Linked DNA regions of Homo sapiens. The protein of the gene in region 3 purifies or fractionates together with the protein of the main gene of each other region. This does not show direct contact. Each region holds a gene or a part of one and is shown on either strand. Other genes may lie near its edges. The genes, in order: AKAP12, HPRT1, CASP9 and RNPEP.

Region 1 (7,848 bases), on a different chromosome or scaffold from region 3:
CCCATTTTCTTATTTTATTTATTTATTTATTTATTTTAAGATGGAGTCTCACTCTGTCACCCAGGCTGGAGTGCAGTGGTGCAATCTCGGCTTCACTGCAAGCTCCGCCTCCCGTGTTCAAGCGATTCTCCTGCCTCAGCCTCTAGAGTAGCTGGGACTACAGGCAGGCGCCACCACACCCGGCTAACTTTTTTGTATTTTTAGTAAAGCGGAGTTTCACCATGTTGGTCAGACTGGTCTCAAACTCCTGACCTCAAATGATCCACCTGCCTCAGCCTCCCAAATGCTGGGATTACACGCGTGAGCCACAACGCCCAGCCTATTTATTTATTTTTTTGAGACAGGGTCTCTGCAGCTTCAACTTCCCGGGCTCTAGTGATCTTCCCACCTCAGCCTCCCAACTAGCTGGAATTACAGGCATGTGCCACCACACCCGGCTAATTTTTAAATTTTTTGTAGCAGTGGGGTCTCACTATGCTGCCTAGGCTGATCTTGAACTCCTAGGCTCAAGTGATCCTCCCACCCTCACCTCCCGAAGTGCTGGGATTATAGGCATGAGCCACCATGCCCACCAGGTGTGAGCCACCATGCCCACGAGCCACATGTTGGTATTTATGTATGTATGAACTCACCATAGCCATGAAAGAGACAAGGGTAACACTTGAGATGTAGAATATAAAACTATTTTAAACCATGGGCTTGCTATTATAATTGATCAGATGTTTAGCCACTCCCACAATGCTTTCAGTTTATTGCACAAATAGACACAGCAGAAAAAATTTAAAAGTAAAAGGAAATCAATAAACAGGTTTATGCATATATGGAAACTTGAGTTTTAACAAGAGGTAACTTTTTAATCAATGGTACTGGAGCAATAGGTAACCCATATAAAAATGAATTTAAGATTTCTCCTTCTAGACATCATCAGTAGCTAGTGGAATAAAGATCTAAATATATGAAAGAGAGAACTTTAACTTTTTTAGAACTGAACTTCTGTTTCCCCAGTTCCTAGCACAGTTCCTGGAGTACAGAAGCTAGTAAAGAAGTATTTATGAAATGGCCAGGCGTAGGTGGCTCACCCTGTAACCCAGCACTTTGGGAGGCCAAGGCAAGAGGATCACTTGAGCTCAGGAGTTCGAGACCAGCCTTGGCAACACAGTGAGACCTTGTCTCTATTATATTAAAAAATAAATGGAAGAAATTAAAACAGAAATATTTATGAAATCAAGATTGAATAGTAAGTGGCTGAGAAAGCCAGAACTCTATTCTTCAACAACTTGGTAGGTTTTAAAATTTCTTTACAGATTTTTGGACCAGTCAAATGCCATAAACTAAGCCCTTAGCTACTGTCTACTTATTCAGCACAAGGGAAGTTTTAAAATGATAAATAAGGGAAGAGGGCTTAGGAGGCAATGAGATGGAAGGGGAACACCGAAAAGTCACAGCTTCTGGCTCAGTAGGGATACGGGCATTTCACTGAACACCTACTTACCTTGAATGGCACAATCTATTTTAAAAAGCCTCCGTTAGCAATCCACTTTTTTTTTTTTGAGACAGAGTCTTGCTCTGTCGCCCAGGCTGGAGTGCAATGATGCGGTCTCGGCTCACTGCAACCTCCACCTCCTAGGTTCAAGCGATTCTCCTGCCTCAGCCTCCCGAGTAGCTGGGATTACAGGTACACACCACCATACTGGCTAATTTTTGTATTTTTAATAGAGATGGGGTTTCACCATGTTGGCCAGGCTGGTCTTGAACTGCTGACCTCGTGATCCGCCCGCCTCGGCCTCCCAAAGTGCTGGGATTACAGGCGTGAGCCACCATGCCCGGCCAGCAACCCACTTTTTAATATAGTCAAACAAAGGAATGAAATTATGTGGAAGAAATATTTTCCTTTATTTTATCCTCCAGATGTGTGAAGGAAAATGCTACTCTTTCATCATGTGAAACCGTCCCTCTCACCCACACAAGTTCCAATCTCAGTGAAATCTGCACATGCTATCACCCAGTGTCACCTAGACCTGAACCTCTCCCTGGCCCTTATTCAGCTCTTACGCCTACTCCTTCCCCTCCCTTAAGGTAATGGAGCCCACACCCCACACATTAGAATATCTGATGAGCATTTTAAGACTACAGAATCCCAGCACAGTGGCAGGAGCTGGTAGTCTCAGTTACTCAGGAGGCTGAGGCCAAAGGATGGCCTGAGTCCGGGAGTTCAAGACTAGCCTGGGAAACACAGTGAGACCCTGTCTCTCAAAAAAAAAAAAAAAAATCACAGAATCCCAGACCCTGAGATTGCCTGGGATTCTAATTCAATAAATCCAGGATGAGGTGTAGGGGTGTCTTTGAAAAGCTCTCTAGGTGATTCAATAGCACCACCAGGTTTGGGAATTAGGAAAAATTTAATCCTTCAATACTCCCAGTTTGCAGTATTTGCATATAACAAATAGATGGTCAGCCAATAAACTGCAGTAATCTCTCCTTCTTAAATTTTGGTTTATTTCGTTTTGAAATCAAACATGAAACTGACATGCTACTACAACTGGGATTAAGATTAGGCAGAGAGAAACTACAGGGTTTCCCCCATTTAAAAAACATCACAGAGAAATCACAGGGAAGACAAAAAGCTTTGAACCTGAAATGAATACTTGTATTAAGAGGTGCCTAATGGTGTCCCGGTGTCCCAGATGGTTTCCTGTGCTTTGAACACCTACATTTTTCTCAGAAAATCCATGTATACCATCCAGTTAACAGAGCCAGGCTGTTTGCCGTGAGAACGGGAGAGGATCCCGGGTAAGCCTTCACTCTATTGTTTTCCCAAGAGGTGGATTTCTGCTGCTTCCAATCCCTGATCTCAACATTTCACGGATCATGACCACAAAGTAATTTCTGGCAACTAAATGATTTTAGATTGTTCCAAGAGAAGAAATTTTAAAAGTGATAGCTAAAGAAGTAGGTCATCCTCCAAGCAAATAAATTTAAAGATGGTTCATTAATTTGGAAAGGAAAAGGAGCAAAGGAGAGTAAGACTGCTCTACCTCAGCTGCGTTTTTATTCTTGAACTTGCTTTTTTCCAATTTGATTAATTTCTGGGGAAAAAGTTTTTTTGTTTTTTTGTTTTGTTTTGTTTTTTTAAATAGAGATAGGGTCTTGCTCTGCCACCCAGGCTGTAGTGCAGTAGCATGATCATAGCTCACTGCAGCCTCATACTCCTGGGTGGAAGCAATCCTCTCACCTCAGCCTTCCAAGTAGCTAGGACTACAGGTACACGTCACCGCACCCAGCTAAATTTTTTATTTTTTGTAGAGATGGGGTCTTGCTATGTTGCCCAGGCCACTCTTGAACTTTCTCTCAAGTGATCCTCCCTTCTTGGCCTCTCAAAGTGCTGAGATTACAGGTGTGAGCCCCCACACCTGGCTAGAAAAAAAAATCTTTAAAAATTAATTGGGCAGGGCATGGGGGCTCACACCTGTAATCTCAGCACTTTGGGAGGCAGAGGTGGGAGGATCACTTCAGTCCAGGAGGTCCAGACCAGCCTGGGCAACACAGTGAGACCTTGTCTCTACCAAAAATAAACAAAATTAGCCAGGCATGGTGGTGTGCACTTGTAGTCCCAGCTACCTGGTGGTGTGTGCCTGTAGTCCCAGCTACTCAGGAGGCTGAAGTAGGAGGGTCATTTGAGCCCAGGAGGTCGAGGCTGCAGTAAACCAAGATTGCACCACTGCATTCCACACTGGGCAACAGAATGAGAGCCTATCTCAAAAACAATAAATAAATAAAATTAAAGTTAAATGAAAATGAAAATGAAAATTAATTAACAGTGAAACAAACCATAGCCTTTCATGCTCTGACAGCCAGACCAGTGCATGATCAGATGGCAAGCACATGGCAGAGAAACATGATGAGGCATTCAACTTCACAGTTAAAAATGCACCAAGGAAACTGAGGTACCATTCTTCACCTAGCACATTGGCAAGTATTGGAAAATCTGATACCCATGAAGGCAAAGCATGGGAAAACGAGTGCTGATCTCCACGGTGGAACTGCAAAGTGGTAGAACCTCTTTGGAAAGTCAATTTAGGAAGGGTTAAATTTTTTGTTTTTGTTTTTGTTTTTGTTTTTGAGACGGAGTCTTGCACTGTCACCCAGGCTGGAATGCAGTGGTGAGATCTCAGCTCACTGCAACCTCCCCCTCCCAGGTTCAAGAGATTCTCCTGCCTCAGCTTCCCAAGTAGCTGGGATTACAGGCACCTGCCACCACACCCAGCTAATTTTTTGTGTTTTTAGTAGAGACGAGGTTTCGCCATGTTGGCCAGGCTGGTCTCGAACTCCTGACCTTGTGATTCACCTGCCTCGGCCTCCCAAAGTGCTGGGATTACAGGCGTGAGCCACCGCACCTTGCCGGGTTAAATTTTTAAATGCATATAAAGCTTGCAATTCAGCAATTACACTTATGGACGAGGACAATCTAAATATAAACCCAAGGAATTGGTTAAATCGTTACAGGGCTTCAACCCACAAAAGGGAAATTTATGCACCCAAATTAATAAGAATGGGGGCAGTTATTTATGTCCTGATATGAAAAGACATCCAAAACCTAAATCTATATGTGATATGATCTTTTTCTTAAATGGAAAAGACTGTGCCATTTTTATCTACTTTCATGTGCATGAAGTTTTCGAAAGAATATGTAAGAAGCCATCATATTGGCTTCAAATTTTACTTAAATTTGTGAGTAATTTACCCTACTTATAAATTTAAGTTCTCAATCATTAATTTTTTTAAAAAATAAACATTAAATGAATATTGCTATGCAATGACTTTAAATAAAAATCATTAATAAGGGTAAACACATGCTTTTGATTTTTTTTTTTTTTTTTTTTGAGACGGAGTCTCTCTCTGTCGCCCAGGCTGGACTGCAGTGGTGACTGCAGTGGTGCCATCTCGGCTCCCTGCAAGCTCCACCTCCCGGGTTCACGCCATTCTCCTGCCTTAGCCGGGTGGATCACGAGGTCAGGAGTTTGAGACCAGCCTGGCCAACATGGTGAAACCCCATCTCTACTAAAAATACAGAAACTTAGCTGGGCGTGGTGGTGGGTGCCTGTAATCCCAGCGACTCGGAAAGCTGAGGCAGGAGAATCGCTTGAACCTGGGAGGCAAAGGTTGCAGTGAGCCAAAAAAAAGAATTCGGTTCAAGGAAATTTAGTTGCTTTTTTTTTTTTCAAGAGATAAACGTACTGGCTTAATTTTTCTTAGAATGCTTAGTGCTATAAATTCTAATTTCTAACTTCGCATGAATGGCTACTGCATATAGAATTATAGAGATGGGGGATGATGCCATTTAGTTTGAGTTTTCCTGCACTGGTGTTCTTTAAGCACTGAATATGTATTAAAACTAACTAAGACAAAGGAAAATAAATAATTTATTAGCATTTTTAAAAACAAAACATTTTATTTCCATTTTGTTAATTATCTTACAAGATCCAAACTAGAATAATCTTATAATGTCAGCTTAAAGCTGTAAAGGCATAGAAATTAGTCAACCCAAAGAGGATGCACATTTCAAGGCCTTTTCTTCATAGAAGGAAATATTTCAAGAGAAAATCTCCACTTATCTTATTCATCCACTAGCCTATAAGCTGTAATGGATTTAAAGGAAGCCCTGCGATTCCTGCAGTCTATCGGTACCCAAAAGAATCATCCCCACATCCATATCTCCAATTTTTGGTCTCTGTTCTGATCAGAAATTAGCAGCTCTTATAATCTGGTAAAAATCCACAGGAATACAAGTAGCCACACACAGAGAAACATCCCTCTATTAAGAAACATATAATTCTTGCCTTAAATTCTGGCCCATTTTTGTAACACTGGTGATGTAGTCACTTTGAGGCCATCTTCGTTCTCCATTTCCATTGCTAAACAAGTGGCAAATAGGAGGAAGCTTATGGGAGGAATTATGAAATGCAGCTGGCCGCCTCAATTGTCTGGTTTTGTTTGTTTGTTTGTTTGTTTCTTTGAGACAGAGTCTCGCTCTGTTGCCCAGATTGGAGTGCAGTGGCGCCAACTCGGCTCATTGCAAACTCCGCTTCCCGAGTTCACGCCATTCTCCTGTCCCAGCCTCCCGAGTGGCTGGGACTACAGGCGCCCGCCACCACGCCTGGCTAATTTTTTGTATTTTTAGTAGAGATGGGGTTTCACCGTGTTAGCCAGGATGGTCTGGATCTCCTGACTTTGTGATCTGCCTGCCTCAGCCTCCCAAAGTGCTGGGATTACAGGCGTGAGCCACCGCACCCGGCCAATTGTCTGTTTTAATGCACGAGGGTCAAACACATCCTTAAATTTACCAGTCAGACAACGGACTCTTCTATTCGAGTACATCTTTATGTTTTGGTGATTCAAGGCTCTTGTAATCAAATGGAGCTAACAAGAGCCCCCATCTCCCCACCTGCCAGAGACAATGGCCTCACCCTGTTGCAACAGACCATTGTTCAATGTCCAGCATTGAAATCATTCATCAGGCAATACATATAGAAAGGCTAATTAATTGATTGTCCAGACTTAGTCTGGAGCCTGGCTCCAGAAATCAAGATTAGCCAGAGACATGGAAGTCAGTTTGTCACTGGTCACCCCACCCTCTGTTGCCACCTGAATATGTTGCCACCTTAATATTTTTTTAAGACAAATTTTTAAAAACAGACAATTAAGGAATAATGTGAAGTGTGAGGCTTTACTTACCACCAGCATTCAGGTCATCTAATCTTCCCGCACCCTGCAGTTGTGAAACGGCCATGTCTCAAAATTAAACCCTGGCAGATAACAGACCAAGCCATTCCCCCTGCCCCCGCCTGGATCTTACATATAAAGACTGTAAAAGATTTCCAGTCTATCTCTGGATCTAACGGAAAAAATAAAGATTACAAAAGATTGAATAGAAGATAAAGACTCCTTCCATTTTACAGAAATGAACCATAGATAAAACCAAGACTTCTGCTTTAGTGCATCTAAACGTTAAGCCTGAGTAATCAAAAGCTTGTTTAACTCTCCATTTGACCTAATACAAGTGATAATTCAACCAGTGTAATGTCTGTTCAGATAAGGGCACTTAGTGAATAACTGGTAACTAAAACTAGCAGAAAAAAAGGAAAGTAAATCCAATTGCTAAATAGATAGCATGCATGTGATATAAATGTCAGCTATTAGATAGAAAAAGATCTGCCTACAACCTTTAATTAATGACCACATTCTATCCAAGGAGGGAAAAATGATGTATTAGCCTAAACCTCCCCAACCGTCCACAGACACATCAAGGAAGTTCAAGATGTAATCCTAAGTAACTCAGGGTATGAAATGGACTCATTTGAGCCATATGCACTTCATATATTTGTCTATTTAAGATAAAACGCAATTTGAAATTGCAATGCTAACAAGTCACTCTATATCTAGAGAAACAGAATCCAAAGCCCCCAAATCTGAAGTTTTTGGTCAAACTATTCACTTGATCTATTAATAACCGAACAGACTGACTTGCCTTAGTCACTATCATAATCAGTCTCACGTGATAATGAAATGATCAAGGGTTAAATTGTAGTAAAATCAGATAGGTCAAGGTATTCTCCAACTTGATATTTTCCAATCAAAACCAAGGAGCCAATATCACCCCTTCCTCTTTCCACAAGTATTCCTGAGAGCTGCCTCTGTGCCAGGCAACATGGCACGCATGAAGGAACACCGTTGGTCGGCACAACCAGGCGTGTTCCCTGCCCCTGCGAAGTATTCACAACAGCAAGAACACTAAACCCACACATGTGAAAACTGCTGGGACGGGTCCATGGTGCCACGGAGCCTAGAGTG
Region 2 (8,483 bases), on a different chromosome or scaffold from region 3:
ATTTAATTCCTAGTAATGAGTAATATTTCCAAACTTCTGGAATGGGCAGAAATTGCTAGTTGGCATATTTTTACCTTTTATATTCAGATACATTAAAATTCTCAAAAAAAAACACCTCAAAGCAGATGATCCGCCATCTCCTTGGATAATTTGTGTTAACTCAGGATAACAGAAAACCAAAATTATGAGTTACTGATGCAATATTCCTAAATGTAAAAATAATTAAAGCTAATAGTAGATTCATCTTCCAATTTCATATCAGTCTTACAAATAAACTACATATATAACTTGCTTGCCTTCCCTTCTGAGGGATAAAGCTGTTAGAAGAATTAAAATCAGCATTCTTGACTATTCAACCAAGGGAGGGATAAATTATTACTCATTCTAGGGACATGGGCTCATAACTACTACATGTGTAAGGACATGAATTTACCCAATATTACAATTTTTCCTTTTATTAGTGTGTACAGTGGAAGAATAGACATGTTCACTCTGGACAAAAAAAAAATTATACTTATCAGTTATCAGAAGCACAATGCTGAAGACAGTAGTTCCATAACAATTTGAAGTATGTGATCGAACTAGTAGATTATCTTAGTAGTAGTGAATTATTGTAAATGTTAGTAATTTGGCAGCCACTGGGCAGAAAAATAAGAATTGAGGCTCAATATTGATATTAATGGTGGTGATTGACACATAAATTTTATCAAGTCTACACAATATAAAATTACAGAAAGGTAGAAGAGTATACCAGTACAACTTCAACATATCTTCACTACAAGGGAGTAAAATGACATGGCCTAGTTACTATCTAATGAACTGCAGAAAACTAAAAGAAAACTCCAAGGCAACTCTTCTCTGCTGATCTGGTTGGTCCTTTTCCTACCTTTTGCAATACCCAGATACAAACAATGGATAGAAAACAAAGTAGACTTGTAGTATGCAGGTCACAGTGCTAAATTCACAGAAAGAAACCCCTGAACTGAACTGCTCTATTTCCTGGTGGTCACAAAGAGTAATTCTGGTTTACACCTACAGATTGATGTCAATCTACACCCTGTTGATAACAGTGTGGCCAAGGACAAAAAAAAGGTGCTCCGTTTTACCAATTCTGTAAAAAATTATTGGCAGGGTAAGCTCGGCTAGGGCAGGATTACATTTCTAGGACTACCATCCCCGAAATTTAGAAGATATTATATCCACATAAAGCATATCTTTCACATTAATTTGCAAAAATCTAAAAGCTTTTTCTTAGCTCAAGTGTGTCCAAGTTTACCCTGGCAGTTTAAAACGATAGTTACAAGCAGCATGGGTTGTATCAGACACATTTGAGGGCCAATTTCATGTAAGTGATATTGGGCAAGTTACTTCAACTATCTGTGCCTCCAAGGTCATACTAGTGTTTATTTACCTAAAGGGTACCTGTTATGTAACTTTAGGGTGTTTACATTAGATAATGCCTGCAAAATATTTACTTCAACGCCTAAAACATAGTTAAGTATTCAATAAATACCTACTATTGTCACTACTAACTTAAAAGTTTAGAGATTAAGAGCAGAATCTGGGGTGAGACAAACTTAGGTTCAAATCCTAGTATTGTTGGGTAATCTTGGGCAAGTTACTTAACCTCTCTGATTTGTGTAATTTAAAAAATTAGTTAATATACATAACAGGGCTTAGAAGAGTATCTAGCACATAGCACCATTTAAGCATTTGTTATTGCTAACATGCAAACAATTTAAGGGAAAGAAATTTTTTAAAAAGGAAGAGGGATTTGCAAACTAAAAACAATGAGTATCTTATGTTCAAAGAAAACTAACAAACAGCCAGCTCTAGCAATAATTAAATTCACTATATACTGGGGCAGGCATCACACCCCAAAGCTAAAAGCGTCTACCTAGGCCAGGCACGGTGGCTCATGCCTGTAATCCCAGCACTTTGGGAAGCAGAGGCGGGCAGATCGCTTGAGCTCAGGAGTTCAAGACCAGCCTGGACAACATGGCAAAACACCATCTCTACAAAAAATACAAATATTAGGCCGGGCGCAGTGGCTCACGCCTGTAATCCCAGCACTTTGGGAGGCCAAGGCGGGTGGATCACCTGAGATCAGGAGTTCGAGAGTAGCCTGGCCAACATGGTGAAACCTCGTCTCTATTAAAAATACAAAAAATTAGCCAGGCATGGTGGCAGGCGCCTGTAATCCCAGCTACTCAGGGGGATGAGGTAGGAGAATCGCTTGAACCCGGGAGGCAGAGGTTGCACTGAGCCGAGATCATGCCACTGTACTCCAGCCCGGGCAACAAGAGCGAAACTCCATCTCAAAAAATAAATAAATAAATAAATAAAATAAAGTACAAATATTAGCCAGGGATGGTGGTGCGCACCTGTAGTCCCAGCTACTTGGGAGGCTGAAGTGGGAGAATCCCCTGAGCCTGGGGAGAATCACCCGAGCCCGGGAAGTCGAGGCTGCAGTGAGCAGTGATTGTGCCACTGCACTCCATCCTAGGTGACAGAGTGAGACCCTGTCTCAAAAAAAAGAAATTGGCAGAATTAAGTAAGTTGATGTTTAGAGATGAAAAATCAACATTTTTTCCTCAGCAACTGAATAAAAACAACAGCCACTACCATTTTTTTGAGTACCTATTTGTAGCCTATTTTTTAACTGGTATTACTCGAGAGAGAGAGAGCTAGGTTCGAGACAGAGCTCCTTCTCTTAATAACTGTATGACCTAGGGTATGTCTGTTAGCCTCTCTGAGGCTTCAAAGGTTCCTCATCTGTAAAATGGTAATAATCATACCATTGCTACAGGGCTGTTTTGAAGACTAATTAGGACTATGTAAGTAAACATGATGATGGCTATTATTACTGTTCCCCGCCAGGGGCCATGCAAGGGTTGCTGATTCACATAGACTGTCTTATAATCCTCTCAATAACTCCAAGAGGTAGCCAGCACCTCAGATATACATAAAATGACTTAAGCCCAGAGAGGTGAAGTAAGTTGCCCACAGCCACACAACTAGTAAATAGCCCAAACAAGCTGGATTCCCAGTTAGACTCCGTTAATAGCACTGCTCTTTACCTTAAGTCATTACAATGCCTAATATGAAATAGAATCGCTTCTTTCTTAGGGTTCAAGTGGTTAATTATTTAATGTATTCATTCAACAAACCATCATCGAGGACCTCTTACAAGCCAAGTACTGTGCTAAGTGCTAGAGTTACGGCGGTGATTCCTGCCCTTAAAAAGTTTTAGTGGGAGAAACAACAGGTAACCAGGTCATTGCCAAAACAACAAAAATAATCATAATAAAGCAGGCTAAAGCATATTTAACTGGCCGGGGTTTTGACTATTTTAGCAAGCATGATCAGAACGGTTGAGGAGGGAGGCCAGCAGCTTGGCCGGTTCAACAAACAAGAAAAAACCAGTGAGGGTGGAGCTAAGATACCAGAGGCTGATTACGGTTAAGAATGTTCTTGAAGGTAAGGACCAGATTCTCATTTTCTATATCCTGGGGCATCGGTCAGCATGGAATCTGGATTCTAGCACATGTGAATTTCGGCTTGAAATGACCTAATGCCTTTTCCCTAGTTCCTTCGTGTGTCAAATACGCATGGTTACCGCTACCAGAGCTGTAGTGGGGCTTCAATGAGGCCATGAGCATCTCCATAAAGATGAACTACAGTGTGTGCAAAACTAAAGGCAAAACCTGGTCCCCACACGCCCTCCCAGGTGGTCGCTTTCCGTGCCGAGGCCCCTCCAGAGGTGCCCCGAGAACCTCACCATCGCACCCCAAACTTCCAGGGAAGGGCCTCTCCCGAGAAAGCCCCCACGCCCCCACCCCGCGCCATCATTCCCGAATCTGCCCTCGGCCCCTCCCCGCAGCACGCTCGCAGGCGGCACATGTCAACCAAAACGCCATTTCCACCTTCTCTTCCCACACGCAGTCCTCTTTTCCCAGGGCTCCCCCGAGGAGGGACCCACCCCAAACCCCGCCATTCCGTCCTCCCTGCCGCCCTCGCGTGACGTAAAGCCGAACCCGGGAAACTGGCCGCCCCCGCCTGCGGGGTTCCCTGGGCCCGGCCGCCCGAGCCCGCACTGCGGATCCCGCGCCTCAGGGCCCGGCCGCCACCTGCCGCGTGGGCCTGAACCGGCCAGGGCCGGCAGGCCGAGCTGCTCACCACGACGCCAGGGCTGCGGGTCGCCATAACGGAGCCGGCCGGCGCGCGGGCTGACTGCTCAGGAGGAGGAAGCCGGTGGCGGAGCAGAGGAGGAGGCGGAGGCGCAGCAAGAGGCGGCGCCGCGCGGGAAAGCCGAGAGGTTCGCCTGAGGGCTCGTCGCAGCCGCCTGAAGCTGAGGAGAAGCAGGCCCCGCCCTCTGCCCGCCCCGCCACGCCCCGCAGGCCCCGCCCCCGGCCCCGCCCGCGCGCCTACGCCGGCGCCTACCAGTTTGCAGGCTCACTAGGTAGCCGTGGGAATTTTCTCCCAGAAGAAGCCGAGGCTCCCCCAGCGAAGCCCCTTTCCCTCCCAACTCAGTCTCCTATTCAGAGGGCTCCCTGATTCCCAAACCTACCGGCGCGCGTTGCTTCATGGCGGCCGTAAACCGGGCCCCGGCTCTTCGGGTTCCAGTCATCGCGTGAATCCTTGGACCAGACGTCCCATTCCCAAGACCTTGCACTACCTGTGGCTTCCATTTTCCTGACTCTTGGCCCAGTGCTTCCCCAAACCCTTAACTGGTTGTAACAGTTGAGACCTAGAGTCCTAGAGTCACCCAGATCAGGGTACACATCTGAGAGGACACTTAACTGCTCTGTAGTTTTGTACAAATCAGACTCTGAGCCTCTATTTTTGCCTCACTAAAATGAGCATATTAGCCCGGCGCGGTGGCTCATGCCTGTAATCCCAGCACTTTGGGAGGCCGAGGCAGGTGGATCACTCAAGGTCAGGAGTACGAGACCAGCCTGGCCAACATGGCGAAACCCCATCTCTACTAAAAATACAAAAATTAGCTGGGCGTGGAGGCGGGCGCCTGTAATCCCAGCTAGTCCGGAGGCTGAGGCAGGAGAATCACTTGAACCCGGGAGGCGGAGGTCGCACTGAGCTGAGATCGCACCACTGCACTTCAGCCTCCGCGACAGAATGAGACTCCGTCTCAAAAATAAATAAAAATAAAAATAAATAAAAATTTAAAAATAAAATGAGCATATTAACAATACATAAACAGGATCATTTTGAGTATTAGAGGAGTATAGGTATGCGTGTGTGTATGTATATATATATGCACTTAGGACAGTACAGTCAGCAAATGGGAACTACTGTTATTACTACTGATCTTTATTTTTGCCCACACAAGTTCTTATATTGAATCTGAAAACAAAAATATGTTCCCCTGCTAATTAATTCTCAGATAGGTCAGGTAAGCAAGCAACAGTTGCTCCAGCAACACCATTTCTTATATACTCAACCCTATAGCTCCAGCATCCACCACAGTGCCCAGCACATAGTTGGTGGCCTCCCTCTTATTAAGGACGCTGAGGGGTATGTGATGGCAGGAGATTTGTAAAACTAGGCAAGTCATTGAGCTTCTCTGGACCTCAGTCTCTTCATCTAAAAAATGAGAATAATAAACCTGGGTAACATGGTGAGACTCAGTCTCTACAAAAATGAAAAATTATCTGGGCCTGGTGGCCATGTGCCTGTAGCCCCAGCTACTTGGGAGGCTGAGGTGGGAGGATGGCTTGAGCCCAGGAGGTCCAGGCTGCAGTGAGCCAAGACTGTGCCACTGCACTCCAGCCTGGGCAACAGAGAAATATCCTGTCTCAAGAAAAAAGAAAAAGAGAGAGAGAGAGAATAATAACTACTGCCATGAAGAGTTTTACGAGAATTCTAAAAATCATTTATGTAAAGTACCTCATATAGTATTTGCCACATAATAGGTGCTCAAGAAACAGTAGCTGTTATAATTTTAGCATGTATGAATTTGTGAAGTCCATACTTCCCTACTTTCCCTGTCTTCCCTCTTTATCCTGGAGAGGCAGCAGGCTGTAATGGAAAAGGGATGTATGGGCTTTGGACTGAGTTCAAATCCTGGGTTCCCCACTATTATAGCATTTTGACTTTGGGCAAGATCCTTGGTCCCTGCGTGCTTGGTTTCTTATACGTCAAATGAGGTTAATATCTCTGTCACAGAGTGTGGTGAAGATTAAACAAAATAATATATGCAAAAGTGCCTAGCATAGAGCTTGGCTCAATACATGATGATACCAATGTTACGTGTTCCATAATAATTTTGCCTTAAACAGTTCACTTTCTTCTAGCCTCTAAGACTTTTTTTTTTTTTTTTGAGACAGAGTCTCGCTCTGCTGCTCTGCTGGAGTGCAGTTGAATGATCTCAGCTCACTGCAACCTCTGCCTCCCGGGTTCAAGCAATTCTCCTGCCTCAGCTTCCCGAGTAGCTGGGACTACAGGCGTGTGACACCAGACCTGGCTAATGTTTGTATTTTTAGTAGAAAATGGGGTTTCACCATGTTGGCCAGGCTGGTCTTGAACTCCTGACCCCAGGTGATCCGCCCATTTTGGCTTCCCAAAGTGGTGAGATTACAGATGTGAGCCACCACGCCCAGCCTGCCTCTAAGACTTCTTATCCATTCCCCTGTTGATGGACATTTGGGCAGTTTCCAGGTTTGGGCTATTAGAAATAATGCTACTATGAACATTTTGTACATATCTTTTGGTGAATATATGAATGCATTTCTATTTGGCATAGAACTTGAAATTCATATTAGAACATTTTCATTACTTATCCTTTTAACAAACATTGTGTTCTATCAGGAAGTTAATTCAGAGAACTTCCGGTTATATATTCGTCCCCTGACACATGTGGTCTCAGCTACTCAAATTTGTTTCTAAATTAGGTACCCAACAATTCAGAATCCTTCCAGCTTGCCTCTGGCTTGCAGTTCCTTTCTCCAAATCCTGCAGTACCAGATACTCCTGTATTTTAATAGTGGATTTGAAACAAATAATGATAGCCAGATGATTGTAAAAACAAAGAAACAGTACTGTTCTTTCAATCTTGTCATTCTGTGTGACAATTTGGACTTTTTATTTGTATTTAAAATGGAAAACAGCAAACACTGCAATCTGCAAGATGTAAGACTTTTTCTTGGTAAGTGAAAATCTGGTTCACATATGAAATGGTTTACTGAATTTCCACATTATATTTAAAGTGGAAATGTATTCTTCTAAAATATTGTTTTCCCACTACAGACAAAAGCAAGAAAATAATTATTCCTAATTATTATATGATTATTATTGAAAATGATTTTGTCATAGAGGTGAAAAATGTTAAAAAATTATCTACTCTGGACGTCCTATATGCTAGGTATGTCACTGTTCTTTACTGGAATATCTGCATGCAGGAAGAAATAAGGAAAGCATGAGTGTAACCTAAGATTCCTCTTCCCGATGCCTTTCCAGAAACAATTTTTTTTTTTTTGAGATGGAGTCTTGCTCTGTCACCCAGGCTGGAGTCCAGCGGTGTGATCTCAGCTCACTGCAACCTCTGCCTTCCAGGTTCAAGCAATTCTCCTTTCTCAGCCTCCCGAATAGCTGGGACTACAGTTGCACGCCACCACACCCGGCTAATTTTTGTATCTTTAATAGAGACAGGGTTTCACCATATTGATCAGGCTGGTCTCGAACTCCTGACCTCAGGTGATCCGCCTGCCTCGGCCTCCCAAAGTGGTGGGATTACAGGCATGAACCACTGCACCCAGCCAGAAACAATTTTGTAATCGACTTGTTTGAACACAATTATGAATTATTTGTGCGCCACAACCAAGTCCAACTGTATTTCTTCTCTAGAAATTTCTTTATTAAGAAGTCTGTTTTTAACCATGGTGCTGTGCTCCGCCAAAATTTGTATTTCTATGAAAAACAATCATCACAAAAATATTTATACTAAATGTTTACTTTTTCAATGAGTTGATAATGGTTTTCTCAATAATGCCAGATGTTTCACTTTCATCAGAATAACTTTCCATAAGCTTTACTTTTTTTTTTTTTTTTTTTTTGATACGGAGTCTCGCTCTGTCACCCAGGCTGGAGTGCAGTGGCGCGATCTCGGCTCACTGCAAGCTCTGCCTCCCGGGTTCACGCCATTCTCCTACCTCAGCCTCCCGAGTAGCTGGGACTACAGGCACCTGCCACCACGCCTGGCTAATTTTTTTTGTATTTTTTAGTAGAGACGGGGTTTCACCGTGTTAGCCAGAATGGTCTCGATCTCCTGACCTTAGGTGATCTGCCCGCCTCGGCCTCCCAAAATGCTGGGATTACAGACATGAGCCACCGTGCCCGGCCTCCATAAACTTTACTTTTATTCCATAAATGGGGTGTAAAATTGAACCATAATTGGAATTAACTAACATGATGGTTAATTTCTTTCTTTTTCTTTTTTTTTGAGACAAAGTCTTGCCCTGTGACCC
Region 3 (7,848 bases):
GTGGCGCGATGGCTCACTGCAAGCTTCGCCTCCTGGGTTCAAGCGATTCTCCTGTCTCAGCCTCCCAAGTAGCTGGGACTACAGGCGTGTGCCACCACACCTGGCTAATTATTTGTAGAGATGGGGCTTCACTGTGTTAGCCAGGATGGTCTTGATCTCCTGACCTCGTGATCTGCCCGCCTCAGCCTCCCAAAGTGCTGGGATGACAGGCGTGAGCCACCGCCCCTGGCCAATGATCTTATTTCCAATGGCGGCTGGAAAGCGTAAAAAATGCGCAGGCCACCTCTAGCAAGTAGCTATCAGTATTCCATTTTATGTAATTAGGCAACTGAGACTGAGATAAGTTAAGGGGTTTCCCCCCAGACAGAGGCTGACTGGGACTTTGACCTACCTCATTTTTGAGTCTACTATTACCAATGGCTGGGATTTTTCCATGTTTCTTTACATCTGCAAAGTGATTTTATCTCTAAAATCAGTCGTTGTATACCTTAAATTTTTAATTCACTTGTACATTAGAGAACTGTAGAAAGCTGCAGGACATCCTAGGATGTATTTTTGGAATCCAAACTTTTACTTTTCTTCTCTCCTTGTGTTCCCTCTCTATTTTGTCCTAGTGTTATCATTTGTACTTCTTGCACTATGGCAAATCCTTTTCTAGAATCAAAGAAGCCATCAGAAAAATACCAAATAGACACCAAGTCATGGATAATGAAATCCATGGAGATGTTTACACCTTCTAATCCAGTAATTTCCTAAGAAAATAATTCAAATGCAGTCAAAAGCTTTCTATATGAAGACACCTGTGGTTGTGTGAGCCAAAAATTAGATATCACCTAAATGGCCGACATTAGGAAAATGGTTTAGTAAATTAGTGCATGTCATGAAAATGGCCCATTATAAAGCCATTTGAGCTAGTGATGATGAAGGCCATGGAGATCTGGGGAACTGCTTAAGGGATAACGTTAGCTGAGAAAAGCAGACTGTGCTCATGGGCTGGAATCCAAAAGGAAGATGCAAAAATGAGATGGCTGTATTAGCTTATAACATTCTGAATTATTTTCTTTTTTAGGTTGCCATATTTTTTGTCTTTTCCATTTTAAAATCTAGACTCCCCAAAGGCAGTGCCAAGCTTGGAAAACAGAGAGGTCCTGGCAGGACTTGTGCCCCACATGGCTCAGCTACAGAGCTACTGAAGTGGAGACACTGACGGAGGTCTTCCGGGATGAGGTCTTCTGCAGTAGGGCTCATGGTGGGTGGGGTAAGGCGGAGCACAGAGGGCTACTCAGGAAAGAAGGCATCTAACAAGAGCTTTGGTTAAAAAATATAAATATATATTTAACTATGTATACATACTGCAGAAAAAAAAAGAGAAATTTTTTTAAAAATAGGCTGAAGTTGGAGTAGGAGTGATCCAGAGGGTCCCCTGCAAAAACACTCCTGGAGAATGTGACTGTGATCCAGGCCCTGATGCCATCAGGGAGAACGGTCCTGGTGAGAGAGACAGCAAGTGCTGTGGCCGCAACGCAGGCAGGTTTGCATGGCTGGATCTATGTGACTGAGGGAAGTCACAGTTCACCCAGAGGAGCTGGGGGCCCATCTGGCAGGAACAGAGGTGGCTCTGGCAACCCCATAATAGTAACACCAAAATCTATTGACCTCTTACCCCACACAGCTAAAGCTCAGAAACCACTGGTCATTGGCATTCTCCCAGCTGATATGAGGGGCGCGGAATTCTGCCCCATGTTTTTTGCCTCTCAACTATCCCACTGCTTCTCACGGAGGCCCCCAGCCTCCAAAGGGGGGCCTCTTTGATCTGTGACAGCCATGTTTTTCTCCAGATTTTGTGGTTCATTGCTTCTGGTTGTTTTCTTGGTAGAGACTCCGGAATCTGCCCCAGGTGTCTGGGAATGACGTGAAACAGCACAGCAAGGAGGCCTGAGGCGTGAATGTGATGGTGCTGGGTCTGCCTGGCAGCCTGTGGGGGCGGAGGGATGCCTAAGTGGGGGATGCCGTTAAGAATGGCCAGAAGAGACAGGGTGAGCAGAGAGGCTGAGAAGAGACAGCAGATCAGAGCAGGGGGTGTGGGGGAAAGGAAAGAGGGGGTCAGGCGGGGCGCTAAGGCAGCTCCGTTCACGTGTCAGCCTCAGCCCACAAATCTGATGTGAAGGCCTTGCCTAGGGTGTTCTGCACTGTATGCATGGCTTGGTTCTTGGAGAGCCTCGGTTCTTAGAGAGCCTCATTAATGCAAAACTCCCCGTAGGGCAGGACTCATTCCCCACAAGAATAAATATACAGTAGGAGGAGATGTTCCCTCCGCACAGAAAATCCACGACCACTGCAGCATATTGTCATTGCTTTCTGTCTTCTCAGCCCGATCTCTCAAATCCCAAAGAGGGGTCACCCCAAAATTGACGGCTCAGCCTCAGAGAGGTGGCTACTTGGTTGCCTATCACGCTGACGTTGCACACCAAAGTTATCGACTTTAATGCACATTTTTCAGCCCTGGTGCTGTTACCTCCTAATGAATGGGTGGATGACATGTTGGAGGGTTTTAAAATTATTATTTAAAAATGATTTTTAAATTATTTATTATTATATTTAAATTAATTATTAAATGATTTTTAAATTAAATATTTTTAAAGTATTATAGTGAGTTATAAAATAGCAATACAAGAGTCCTCAAAACCCAGGACAGGTGTTCTGATGCATGTAAACAGACCCCTCGCCAGGCACTAGTGAAGAACGGGGACCTTTCTATTTCTGCTCTCAGCTGACGTGGCGCCACCATGTGGTAACTGCGTTAAGCACCAGGTCACGCAGCCTGCGGAGGCAAAGCAAGGACCCGACTCCAAAGGGATATCTTAATCACTGCATGCTGGCTTTGAAATCTTGCTGTTTTCTGTGAGTTTTGTTTTAATGATGGAAATCTACATTATGCCAAATTTGGCTCATATTTTTTTTTTATTTTTTATTTTTTTAGAGACAGGTGACAGACTGGCTCTGTCACTCAGGCCGGAGTGCAATAGTGTAAACATGGCTCACTGTAGCCTCGACCTCCAGGGCTCAAGCGATCTTCCTGCCTAAACATCCCAAGTAGCTGGGACCATAGGCACACACCACCAGGCCTGGCTAATGTTTTAAATTTTATGATAGAGACTGGTCTCAAACTCCTCGTCTCAAGAGATCCTCCCACCTTGGCCTCCCAAACTGTTGGGATTACAGGCGTGAACCACCACAGATGCTTTTGTATGGTTCTCCTTTACATTCAAATTAGAATCCACATGAGACGCAACCAGACTGTGGGCTCTGTGCCAGGCTGGGGGCCTGGCTGCAGGGTAGGCCTGGCCCTCCCCTCAGAGCTGACCAGGGGATAAGCCCATCTCAATACAATGAGACAGTGCTATGGTAGGGGAGGGACAGAGGCTGCAGGAGCACAAAGGCCAGCTAACCCTGACTTTGGCCAAGAAAGGGGGTGTTTAGGGAAGTGACAATAAATTGTAACCAGAAGGATGGATGATTAAGAGTCAGCCAGGTGCCAGGCACGGTGGCTCATGCCTGTTATCCCAGCACTTTGGGAGGCGGAGGTGGGAGTATCACTTGAACCCAACAGTTCAAGACTAGCCTGGGCAATATAGTGAGACCCCCATCTCTAAAACAAAATAAGTAAAAATGAATTTTAAAAAAAGAGTTAGCCAGGGGAGCAGGTAGAAGAGCAAGCAAGAGCCTGGACATCCTGGGAAGGCTGGGCCGTGCTGGGGACTCGGAGCATGCCAGGCTGGGGAAGGTGAAGTGGCAGGGGCCAGGTCACCAAAGGCCTTGGAAGCCCTGCTACTGAGTCCTAAGAGTGACAGCAGATATTCACGTGACAAAGGCCCTCCCTGCTGTTGAGACTGAGACTGGATGGGGCATGGGAGGAGCACAAGACTGACTAACTGTCCAGAAAGTAGGTATGCCTGCTCAGCCTGCATTCCTAATTCCCCTGCCCTTTCTGTCTTTCATTTGATTCATAGGAGAAAGAGGGACCGGAGGCTCCGAAGGAAGAGCATTGCTGGACCACACACTGTGGATAAGACAGGAGGTGAGGCAGAGCAGGGTTTCTACAGCCCCGAGAGTGGCAGCCTTCCTCACTTCCTGTTACTGTTGTCCTGAGGGAACTCTGCTGGCGACAGCGGGGTGGGGGACTCTTATGTGACACTGGGTCCTCCGGGGTGGGAGCGGGGGGCAGGCTGGGTTTTCAGTTATTAAAATGAACCAATCACTGTACACACACCAATTAGTGCATTAAATATTATTAAAGTTGCCTGGGCACAGTGGCTCACGCCTGTAATCCCAGCACTTTGGGAGGCCGAAGTGAGCAGATTGCTTGAACCCAGGAGTTCAAGACCAGCCTGGGCAACATGGCAAAACCCTGTCTCTACAAAAAAAAAATAGAAAAATTAGCTGGGCATGGTAGTGTGCACCTGTAGCCCCAGCTACTCAGGAGGCTGAGGTGGGAGGATCACCTGAGCTTGGGAGTGGGTTCTGTTATTTTCCCCATTTGCTGAGCTGTCTAGAGATGAACTGGCCCAGGGCTGTGTGATAGATAGGTCAGTAGCCCATCCAGGGTTAATCAAGTGTTCTCAATCACTTGTGGTCAAGTTATGGGCATGGGTCATGACAGTGACTTAATACAGTTCATGTCAAATTATAAATTCCAGGAGACTGAAACTCTGTTTTTCCCCTATCCCCAGCACCTAACGCACAGCCTGGTATATACAGATGGTGCTCAATAAACACTTACTGGATGAATGATGTGACCAGAGACTGCTCTCCTAGGTAGCCTCCACCCAACTCCACCAACGTGGAATAGGGATGGGGCAGTTGGATGTGCACAGGAGAAATAGACCACAGGTGCCCATGTCACAGCTGGACGAGCTGGACAGCGCTATGGTATAACAGTGCTCACTTCTCTGGCAGATCAGGCTGGAGGCAAGGAACTGATATACCTTCTGAATGTTCCAGTCCGTGGAGAGCCTAGGGCAGAGGGGACTCCCTGGGACAGAATTTCTAGCGCTCCCTGATATTCCTGTCATGACCCACAAACTAGGAACCCCATGTTTGTCTCTCTTCCCTCTTTTTTTATAAGAAAATCAGATAACACTGTAATAGGAGTTAAGTTTAAAATTAGAGCATACAGCAAAACTACAAAGAATCCAAGTAATACATTTAAAAAACAAAACAAAAATAGAGACAGGGTCTCGCTGTGTTGCCCAGGCTGGTCTCGAACTCCTGGCTCAAGCAATCCTCCTGCCTCGGCCTCCCAAAGTGTTGGGCATGAGACACTGCACCCAGCCCAAGTAATCTTTAAATGTTCCTCGAACCCCCACAACTACACTTTTGAAAATTCCAATATTTAAATTCTTTGGTTTCTCCATGCAGTTTAGCTGTGGCCACCCTTTCTCTGGGATAGTGGAAACGGGGTCTAGTTGATGGAGGTCAGGAGAATGGTGACAAGAAAAATAAAAAGAGGTTTCTCCTCTCTCTTCTGCTTTCTTTTTGCCAAGTCTTTGGAATTGAAGCTGCCAAAGTTACTTGAGCCCATGATGCCACTGTGCCATGAAACAGAAGACTCTGACCTCTACAAAGCAGACAGAGCAGGGCCTGCTCCAGCCAGACAGAGGTGCTGCCAAAAAGGGACCATGTGTGGTACCCTCTGACTGCCTGGAGAGACCTCATGGGCCCTGTGAGGGGCAGGCTGGAGAAAGAAGCAGGTGGCGGCTCCCTCCCCACCAGACCCACCCAGAGGGAGGCTGAGGAGCTGCTTACCCCCACCACAGGCCTGGATGAAAAAGAGCTTGGGCTTCCCTCCCAGGCTGGGGCAGCTGGTCCCATTGAAGATGTTCACAATCTTCTCGACCGACACAGGGCATCCATCTGTGCCGTAGACAGCCCCTGGGAACTGCAGGTGGCTGGCCTAGAAGACCAAGAACCCTGGTTACAAAACCAAGAAGTTGGAGTAGGAATCCAACAGCCTGTTCAGAGGTTTTGTGGGAGCCAAGGATTTGGAAGGTCAAAGCCAGGGGCACGAGGCTGATTGAGACAGAGCAGGTTGGTTCTGGAAAGACCCTGGTCAGCATCTGGAAAGACACCTTGACAGCAAGGGGTTGCATGTCAAACTCATGTGCCTCTAGGGGCCAGTGTGCCTGGAGAGTGCTGGCTGCGGCCTCTAGACCAGTGGTTCTCAAAGTTTGGCCCCTGCAGCAGCGGCATCAATATCGCTTGGGAACTTGTAAGAAATGTGATTCCTGGGCCCCACCCAGACCTCCTAATCAGCAGTATGGTCCTCCAGGCCCCTCTGACTGAGGCAGCTCAACGCTGAGAGTGGCTGCTTTAAATCAGTTCAGCTCAGACCTCAAGGGCATGGAAATCACCTGGAAACCTTGTTGCTGGGCGGACTTGGAATGAAGAGGTCCAGGGTAGGGCCTGGGAGTCCACATTCTTCATGAGCTCTAGGGACCATATTATGAGAGAAAGGACCAAAGGGAAAGCCCTGCCCAGCCACAGGCTGGAGTTTTACTGGCTGAAGATGCTGGCCTCGTCAGGCCAGACCTTTGCGGTTTGTCAAGAGAAACTAGAAATCCTGATTTTTATGTGAAATTTGCCAGTTTTCAAAACACCGTGCAGACCACAGGGGGACTCCAGGCCCCAGCTTATAACTGTGATCTGTCCAACTCCTCAACTTAAAAGATGAGGAAACTGAGGCCCAGTAAGGGGTAAGGGCTTAATCACAGTGACAAATACGTAAGGGGCCAAGCCCCCAGTGGGCCTGGTGTCCTGAGTCCCACCAGCAGCAAGGGGCCTGGGGCAGTGCCTCACAGGACAGAGACAGGAGCTGAGACAACATGTGTGCTGTACCCGCCTCTGAACAAACTCTGGGTGCAGGAGCTTCGTGAGCAGACCTGGTCTCTGCCCTCCCTCTCCCAGAGGGCTTCTCCCAGGAACACCGACCTGCCCAGGACGGTGCAGCCAACTCCTCAGAGGACCACATGGCTCCCAAGAAAACAACAGGAGGTGGGCAGGGCCCCACAGCCCTTTTCCACAAAGCCAAGGGTGTTTTGGACACAAGAAGGGACATGGCCCCTGCACAGCCTCTTGGCACGGCCAGTACCCAATGCCTGCCCAGGGAACAGTGGGAGGCTTCCTACCTGACAGCCGTGAGAGAGAATGACCACCACGCAGCAGTCCAGAGCACCGTGGTCCTGCTGCGCCAGCTCCAGCAAAGCCAGCACCATTTTCTACAAGAGAGGGCTGCAGGTGAGCCAGAAGCACGGATAGGTCTAGATGCAGACTGGACCGTTCCTAACAATAAAAGGGCCCAGCCTGGCCAGGCATGGTGGTTCACGCCTGTAATCCCAGCACTTTGGGAGGCCAAGGCAGGTGGATCATTTGAGGTCACGAGTTCGAGACCAGCCTGGCCAACATGGTGAAACCCCGTCTCTACTAAAAATACAAAAAAAAAAATTTAGCCAGGCATGGTGGCACACACCTGTAATCCCAGCTACTCAGGAGGCTGAGGCAGGAGAATTGCTTGAACCTGGGAGGTGGAGGTTGCAGTGAGCCGAGATCGCGCCACTGTACTCCAGCCTGGATGACAGAGTGGGACTCTGTGCCCCCGCCCCCCCCAAAAAATAAAACAACAAAGGGCCCAACCCAAACGCCTGGGCAGAGCACTTTCTCGGTTTCCCAGGGCCAGTACCGAAGTGCTGACAGTCCCAGCAGTCGTAATAGCCACCATTTTTGGGGAGAAGGTGCTACGCTTGGGCACTGTTCATCTAACCCCCAAAACAACCCAAGGAGGCAGGTACTATT
Region 4 (7,848 bases), about 190 Mb from region 3:
TAGTAAACTGCTTGCTTACAGTTTAATCTTTTATTTATTTATTTGAGGCAGAGTCTCACTCTCGTCCAGGCTGGAGTGCAGTGGCAAGATCTCGGCTCACTGCAACCTCTGCGTCGTGGGTTCGAGCGATTCTCGTACCTCACCCTCCCTAGTAGCTGGGACTACAGGCGTGCGCCACCACACCCGGCTAATTTTTGTATTGTTTAGTAGAGACAAAATTTCACCATTTTGGTCAGGCTGGTCTCGAACTCCTGACCTCGTGATCCGCCTGCCTCGGCGGCCTCCCAAAGTGCTGGGATTACAGGCGTGAGCCACTGCGCCCGGCCCACAGCTTGGTTTTATACATTAGGGAGACATGATACATCAGTCAGTATATGTAAGAAGTACATTGGTTGGGTCTGAAAAGGTGGGACAACTTGCAGCAAAGGCAGGAAGACTTGAAGCGGCTTCCGGATCACAGATAGGTGATACACAAATGGTTACATTCTTTTGAGTTTCTGATGAGCCTTTCCAAAGGAAGCAAATCAGATATGCATCCATCTCAGTGAGCAGAGTAGTGGCTTTGAATAGAATGGGAGGCAGGTGTGCCCTAAGCGGTTCCCAGGTTGAGTTTTCTTTAGTGATTTTGGGGGCCCAAGAGATTTTCCTTTCACAGCCTGATAACACCACTGCACTCCAGCCTGAGCAACAGAGTGCGACCCTGTTTTAACAACAACAACAAAAAAGCAAAGATGATGAGTAAGCAATTTTGGTGGAGGGGGGATGATGGCTAATATTTAATAAGATGAGCCAGGCACTAGTCTAAGTGCTTGACATAGGTTAAATGAGTTGTCTTTCCATAAGTGGTTAATATGGTGCGTGGTACATGGTAAGTAAGCTGTGTTAGCTCTTACTGCTAACTTTTGTATTTCTTTCTTTTTTTTTTTTTTTTTTTTTTTTTTTTTTTTTTTTGAGAAGGGATCAAAAAGCTCCCTACATTGTTCTTTTTAAAAATCTCGTTTCCAGGCTGGGTGTGGTGGCTCACATCTGTAATCCCAGCACTTTGGGAGGCCAGGGCTGGCAGATCACCTGAGGTCAGGAGTTTGAGACCAGCCTGGCCAACATGGTGAAACCCTACCTCCACTAAAAATACAAAAATTAGCTGGTTGTGGTGGCTCACACCTGTAAACCCAGCTACCTGGGAGCCTGAGGCAGGAGGATCGCTTGAATCTGGGACACAGAGGTTGCAGTGAGCTGAGATCATGCCATTGCATTCCAGCCTGGGTGACACAGCGAGGCTCCATCTAAAAAAAAAAAAAAAAAATACTCATTTCCTAGCTGATCAGTAAAAACATCACTGACTGATGGCATTCAATGATCAGTCAATTGATCAATTCTTATTGACTGGTATAGTGGCACCATCTCAGCTCACTGCAGCCTTGACCTCCCTGGCTCAAGTGATCCTCCCACCTTAGCCTCCTGAGTAGCTGGGGTAGCTGGGACCAACCACAGACCTGCCACCTCCACACTTGGCTAATTTTTGTTATTTTTTGTAGAGATGGGGTTTTGCCATGTTGCCCACGCTGGTCTTGAACTCCTGGGTTCAAGCCATCTGCCCGCTTTGGCATCCCAAAGTGCTGGGACTACAAGCATGAGCCAACATGCCTGGCTTAATTGAGCAGCCAGTTCAGAGAGTTCCCATATACAGTTCAGTACCTCCTACATACACATATACACACAGATTCCCCTCTTGCTACCATTTTGCATTAGTATGACACATTTGTTACAATTAAACAATGCTGATATATTATTAACCAAGATTGAATCATTTTACATTAGTATAATAATATATTTGTTATAATTAATAAACCAGTACCGATACTGGAGTCCATAGTTTTTTCAGATTCCCTTAGTTTTTACTTAATGTCTTTTTCTGTTCCAGGAAGCCATCCAGAATTCCACATTATATTTAGCTGTCATGTATCCTCTTGGGACTGTGACAGTTTCTCAAACTTTCCTTGTTTTTGATATAACTTTGACAGTTTGTTTGTTTTTTGAGACAGGGTCTTGCTCTGTCATCCAGGCCGTAGTGCAGTGAGTGGCACAATCATGGCTCACTGCAGCCTTGATCCCCCTGGTTCAAGTGATCCTCCTGCCTCAGCCCAAGTAGCTGGGACTACAGGCGCATACAACTGCGCCCAGCTAATTTTTTGAATTTATTATTTGTAGAGATGAGGTCTCACTGTGTTATCCAGGCTTGTCTCAAACGCTTGGGCTCAAACAAACAATTCTCCCATCTTGGCCTCCCAAAGAAAGTGCTAGAATTACAGGCATGAGCCACTGCTCCCAGCCAGTTTTTTGTTTTTTATTTTTTTATTTTTATTTTTTCTGTAGAGACAGGGTCCCCCTATGTTGCCCAGGCTGGTCTCAAACTCCTGGCCTCAAGCGATCCTCCTGCCTTGACCTCCCGAAGTGCTGGCATTACAGGTGTGAGCCACTGAGCCCAGCCAACCTTGACAGTTTTGAGGAGTGTTGGCCAGGTATAGCGTAGGATGACCCTGTATTGGAATTTATCTGATGTTTTCTCATGATTAGATTGGGATTATGGGTTTTGAGGGGCAATTCACAGAGGTAAAGTGCCATTTTCTTTCTTTTTTTTTTTTTTTTTTCTTGAAATGGAGTTTCACTCTTGTTACCCAGGCTGGACTGCAGTGGTGTGATCTCGGCTCACTGCAACCTCCGCCTCCCTGGTTCAAGCGATTCTCCTCCCTCAGCCTCCGAAGTAGCTGGGACTATAGGCATATGCCACCACCCTGGTTAATTTTTGTATTTTTAGTAGACACAGGGTTTCACTGTGTTGGCCAGGCTGGTCTTGAACTCCCGACCTCAGGTGATCCACCAGCCTCGGCCTCCCAAAGTGCTGGGATTACAGGTGTGAGCCACTGCGCCCAGCCAAAGTGCCATTTTCATCAGGTATTGAGGGCGCATAGTATCCACATGATTTATGACTGTCAGCGTTAACCTCGGTCCCCTGGCTGAAGCAGTGATTATCAGCTTTCTCCACTGTGAAGTTATTCTCTCATCCCTTTCTATACTGCACTGTACCTGTTATAAGGAGACTAATTAAATTTTTCACACACAAAAACTCAAACCCAGCATCCCAACGTAGCTTCCTTATGCCTCTTAAAATAGGTCTCAGACACTGCTGTGTTCAGAACCCTTCATTAGACTTGCCCAGGCCTGCCTCCCCAACTCTGCATCTGGAGCCTGCATCTGTTTATGCCTCTCCTCATGTTGCTGCTCGTCTCCTTGTGAATGTCTCCTCCCTTCCTTTCCAGCCATCTCAATCCTGCGTGTCTTTGAAGGTCCAGCCAGAAAGTTTTCTTCCCCTATGAAATCATCCTGGAGTAATCGAATCCATTTCTAAATTCTAAATGCTATTTGTTACTGACCTATGCTCCATCCTGCCCCTCTTCCAGGTAAATGAATGGCTGTTTGCTATAGGCAAAAACTGGGTTTTGTGATAAATCATTCAGATTTTACTTTTTTTTTTTTTTTTTTTTTTTTTTTGAGGCAGAGTCTCGCTCTGTCACCCAGGCTGGAGTGCAGTGGCATGATCTCAGCTCACTGCAACATCTGCCTCCTGGGTTCAAGCAATTCTCCTGCCTCAGCCTCCTGAGTAGCTAGAATTACAGGTGCATGCCATCACACCCGGCTAATTTTTGTATTTTTAGTAGCAACAGGGTTTTACCATGTTATCCAGGCAGGTCACGAACGCCTGACCTCAAGTGATCCACCTGCGTCGGACTCCCAAAGTGCTGGGATTACAGGCGTGAGCCACTGCACCCAACCCAGATTTGCCCTTTGTTTAAGAGCTAACAGAACACAGATAAAGAATCATATAACCAGTGCCTATTATATAAAATACCTTTCTTCTGAAAAGGTAAATTTTAGGAACAGAAAACACATATTAGGCCAGGTGCAGTGGCTCATGCCTGTAATCCCAGCACTTTGGGAAGCTGAGGCGGGCAGATCACCTGAGGTCAGGAGTTCAAGACCAGCCTGACCAACATGATGAAACCCCGTCTCTACTAAAAATACAAAATTAGTCGGATGTGGTGGTGCATGCCTATAATCCCAGCTACTTGGGAGGCTGAGGCAGGAGACTCGCTTGAACCCAGGAGGCGGAGACTGCAGTGAGCTGAGATCACACCATTGCACTCCAGCCTGGGCGACAAGAGTGAAACTCTATCTCGAAAAAAAAAAAAGAAAAGAAAAGAGAATGTATATTAGGCTGAGCATGATGGCTTATGCCTGTATTCCCAGCACTTTGGGAGACTGAGGTGGGCGGGTTGCTTGAGGCCAGGAGTTGGAGACCAGCCTGGCCAACATGGTGAAACCCTATCTTTACAATACAAAAATTAGCTGGACTTGGTGGTGCACGCGCCTGTGGTCCCAGCTACTTGGGAGGCTGAGGCATGAGAATTGCTTGAACCTGGGAGGTCGAGGTTGCAGTGAGCCGAGATTGCACCACTGTACTCCAGCCTGGGCGACAGAGCGATACTCTGTCTCAAAAAAAAAAAAAAAAAAAAAAAAAACATATTAATCACTGACTCCCAGTTGAGTTCTGCTTTTCTGTGTCTTATCACAAGTCCAAATGCAGTTGCTTCAGTAGTTTTTTGTTTGATGAGAAACTACTACAGTGAAAAGGACACAGATAGGGTACAGATGACAAGATCAGAGGCTCGGTCCAAGGTCTCTGAGATGACCCATGGGATGCAGTGAGGAATGGACCCTTTCTGGTGGCTCTGCCCTGTGAAGTGGATGTCATACTTTGGCATGGATTCCAGGATGAACTAAATACACAGAGGAGAGAGCTTTCTAGTTCAAACCAGACTGGCTGGCGGAAAGGTTTTAAGGATTACCTAAAATTCTCTCATTCCAGCCAGCTCACTTCTCTGGCCAGACTGAGCTCGTGTGGGAGATGTCAGTTCTGAAATGTTCTTCTTTTCGCTTAGGTTTGCTGGTTGGCTCCCGAGCAGACAGCAGGAAAGAAGAAGCCCTTCGTGTACACCCAGGGCCAGGCTGTCCTAAACCGGGCCTTCTTCCCTTGCTTCGACACGCCTGCTGTTAAATACAAGTATTCAGCTCTTATTGAGGTAAGGAGACTAAGGTTAGGTGCACCTGCCCTTGGGATGAAGAAATGATTTCAGATCTATCAATCAGGTCACGTTTCAGTGGTAAATTATTATATCCATTCAGTGGTACTTCTGAAAAATTGCTTACTTTTAAATTCTTCCACCTACTGAAGTTGTATGTAGCCTTCCTCTAAATCCCATCAGTTGAGCACAGATTTAGTTTCTTGAAACCTTTGTGTTCTCCAAGATAGACTCCAGGCCATTATCATCACACACAGGTGGCCGGTCATGCTCTTATTCAAACTAATCAAAAGGAAACTCTCTCCAGGTAAAATCTCCTAAGCTTTCTCTGTTGTCAGGTCCCAGATGGCTTCACAGCTGTGATGAGTGCTAGCACCTGGGAGAAGAGAGGTCCAAATAAGTTCTTCTTCCAGATGTGTCAGCCCATCCCCTCCTATCTGATAGCTTTGGCCATCGGAGATCTGGTTTCGGCTGAAGTTGGACCCAGGTAGGAGACAAAGACCCCACAGGCAAGGTTGGATTGGCCTCAGAGGTGAGGAGGACTCTGACCAGTGGACCTGCTGGGGGGGTTCTTGGGCAGTCTTGGATCCTCTGTCTGAGTCCAGAGCCTTTCTGCAGCTCATGCAGCATGAGCACAGCTGGAGGAAGTGCTCTTTTTCTCCCTGCCTTTCTCACTCCCTCTCTCCAGTTCTAATCCTGCTGCCTGGAATGAGATCATCATCCCTGCTAGCAGTAGCGCTGTCCTGGGCTGCCTTACAGAGGGATGTTGGAATTTAGGCTGCAGTTTTGGGAAATGGATTTTTTTTTTTTTTTGAGATGGAGTCTTGCTGTGTTGCCCAGGCTGGACTGGAGTGCAATGGTGCGATCTTGGCTCACTGCAACCTCTGCCTCCTGGGTTCAAGCGATTCTCCTGCCCCAGCCTCCCAAGTAACTGGGACTGCAGGCATGCCCCACCACGCTCGGCTAATTTTTGTATTTTTCGTAGAGACGGGGTTTCACCATGTTGGCCAGGCTGCTCTTGAACTCCTGACCTCAGGTGATTCACCCGCCTTGGCCTCCCAAAGTGCTGGGATTACAGGCATGAGCCATCATGCCCGGCCTGGGAAATGGATCTTTATTAATATCTTTAAGTTCTAAATGCCCTTCTAGCAGCTATATCCACTTTCCTATCTTTGTACCAAATCTTCCCCATTTTCTTTTGCACGTAGTTCCTGGAAATAACAACTTTGGTATCATTTCCCTCGAAGAGGGAAGTGGACTCTCCTTCCTATCTGCAGCAGATGCATGAGTCTAAGCCTACGGTGAGAGCAATGCCTCCGTGAAGTTACATGGATCTTGTGAAGATAAAAAGGGATTTTGTAAGGTTTCCTGATAAAAGAGGTTTGACCAGGAGTATAGGTTTTTCCTGGCTCTCATATTACCTCCACCATAGCTTAGTCCCAATGTGGGAGCATCACAGGCTGGACGGTGAAGCCGTGACCTTTTCCTGGCACTGTTGCTGTTCTTTATCTCTGGCCCTGCTCCCAGTTCCTAGAGGCAGTGGTGTCCTTGACAACATTAGTTACGAGCCTCAGACTTCATAACTGGGCTCAGTGGCACTGCTGGTATCATGAGTCTTAGTTTCTGGTTATCAGTTGGAATAATAAATGGGATTCCATTGGCATCTGCTCCCAGCGCACACATTCAAAACAATACCAGTCTGGAAAGACAAAGTGCCCTCCTCTTACGAAGGGCTGTCTTCCTAATAGGCAGGGCGGGAAATAACCAAAAGGATGTCATCTTTGCAATAGACAAGCAAGTAGATAAGTAAAGGAACGTCGTTTCCAAGAATACCCTTACTAAGGTTCTACTTGTAAGAGTATGAACTATTAATGGGAAATGAGAGAACAATAGATTCTAAAGATACTGAGTGATAATGATTTCTTTTTATACTGCCTGTAATAAAATGACAACATGGTATATCGAACTAGGTGACAGAATCCACTTAACTGGTGGTAATGCCTTATTCCTTCCGTGATTAAATGGACAGTTCTTGCCTCCTGGGTCACATCGTAGGGTCTTGTGGGGGGTTATTTATTTATTATTTTTGAGATGGCGTCTTGCTCTGTTGCCCAGGCTGGAGTGCAGTGGCGCGATCTTGGCTCACCACAACCTCCGCCTCCTGGGTTCAAGTGATTCTCCTGCCTCAGCCTCCCAAGTAGCTGGGACTACAGGTGTGTGCCACCATTTCTGGCTAATTTTCATATTTTTAATAGAGACAGGGTTTCACTATGTTGGCCAGGCTAGTCTTGAACTCCTGACCTCGTGATCCATCCACCTCGGCCTCCCAAAGTGCTCGATTACAGGCATGAGCCACCACGCCGGGCCGTGGGGGTTTATTAAATCGGAGGGTCTTCTGGCAAGGTATGCCACCTATCCCAGTCCCTGTTACTGCAAGAGGAAAATCCTGGGCAGAGGGGAATTATGGGTATATCCCAGTAGGCCCTTTTATGTATAATCTCTTCTAATCCTTACACAGACTCCATGAGGATGATACTTTCTACATTTTAAAAATAAGCAAACCAAGGCTGTGGTGAGTGGCTTGTGCAGGACCACTAGTTGGCAAAACTGGAATTAAAATTCAGGTATTTCCATTGCAAATCCAGTGCTCTTTGCAATATACTACAGGTAGTGAGATTGCAGCTTGACTGAGAGCATCCTGATTTATTTT

Evidence for each region.
Region 1: the proteins of CASP9 (region 3) and AKAP12 purify together in Homo sapiens (affinity purification with mass spectrometry; one large-scale study listed by BioGRID and IntAct). This does not show direct contact.
Region 2: the proteins of CASP9 (region 3) and HPRT1 purify together in Homo sapiens (affinity purification with mass spectrometry; one large-scale study listed by BioGRID and IntAct). This does not show direct contact.
Region 4: the proteins of CASP9 (region 3) and RNPEP purify together in Homo sapiens (affinity purification with mass spectrometry; one large-scale study listed by BioGRID and IntAct). This does not show direct contact.

What each region holds. Positions count from the first base shown.
Region 1 is NC_000006.12:151,242,689-151,250,536, reverse strand, and holds part of AKAP12 (A-kinase anchor protein 12), read right to left. Parts: intron 1-7,848. UniProt on the Homo sapiens protein: Anchoring protein that mediates the subcellular compartmentation of protein kinase A (PKA) and protein kinase C (PKC).
Region 2 is NC_000023.11:134,456,035-134,464,517, reverse strand, and holds the start of HPRT1 (hypoxanthine-guanine phosphoribosyltransferase), read right to left. Parts: upstream 4,354-8,483; 5' UTR 4,207-4,353; coding exon 4,180-4,206; intron 1-4,179. UniProt on the Homo sapiens protein: Converts guanine to guanosine monophosphate, and hypoxanthine to inosine monophosphate. Transfers the 5-phosphoribosyl group from 5-phosphoribosylpyrophosphate onto the purine.
Region 3 is NC_000001.11:15,498,806-15,506,653, forward strand, and holds part of CASP9 (caspase-9 isoform alpha precursor), read right to left. Parts: intron 7,275-7,848; coding exon 7,185-7,274; intron 5,954-7,184; coding exon 5,806-5,953; intron 1-5,805. UniProt on the Homo sapiens protein: Involved in the activation cascade of caspases responsible for apoptosis execution. Binding of caspase-9 to Apaf-1 leads to activation of the protease which then cleaves and activates effector caspases caspase-3 (CASP3) or caspase-7 (CASP7).
Region 4 is NC_000001.11:201,983,907-201,991,754, forward strand, and holds part of RNPEP (aminopeptidase B), read left to right. Parts: intron 1-4,997; coding exon 4,998-5,138; intron 5,139-5,476; coding exon 5,477-5,625; intron 5,626-7,848. UniProt on the Homo sapiens protein: Exopeptidase which selectively removes arginine and/or lysine residues from the N-terminus of several peptide substrates including Arg(0)-Leu-enkephalin, Arg(0)-Met-enkephalin and Arg(-1)-Lys(0)-somatostatin-14.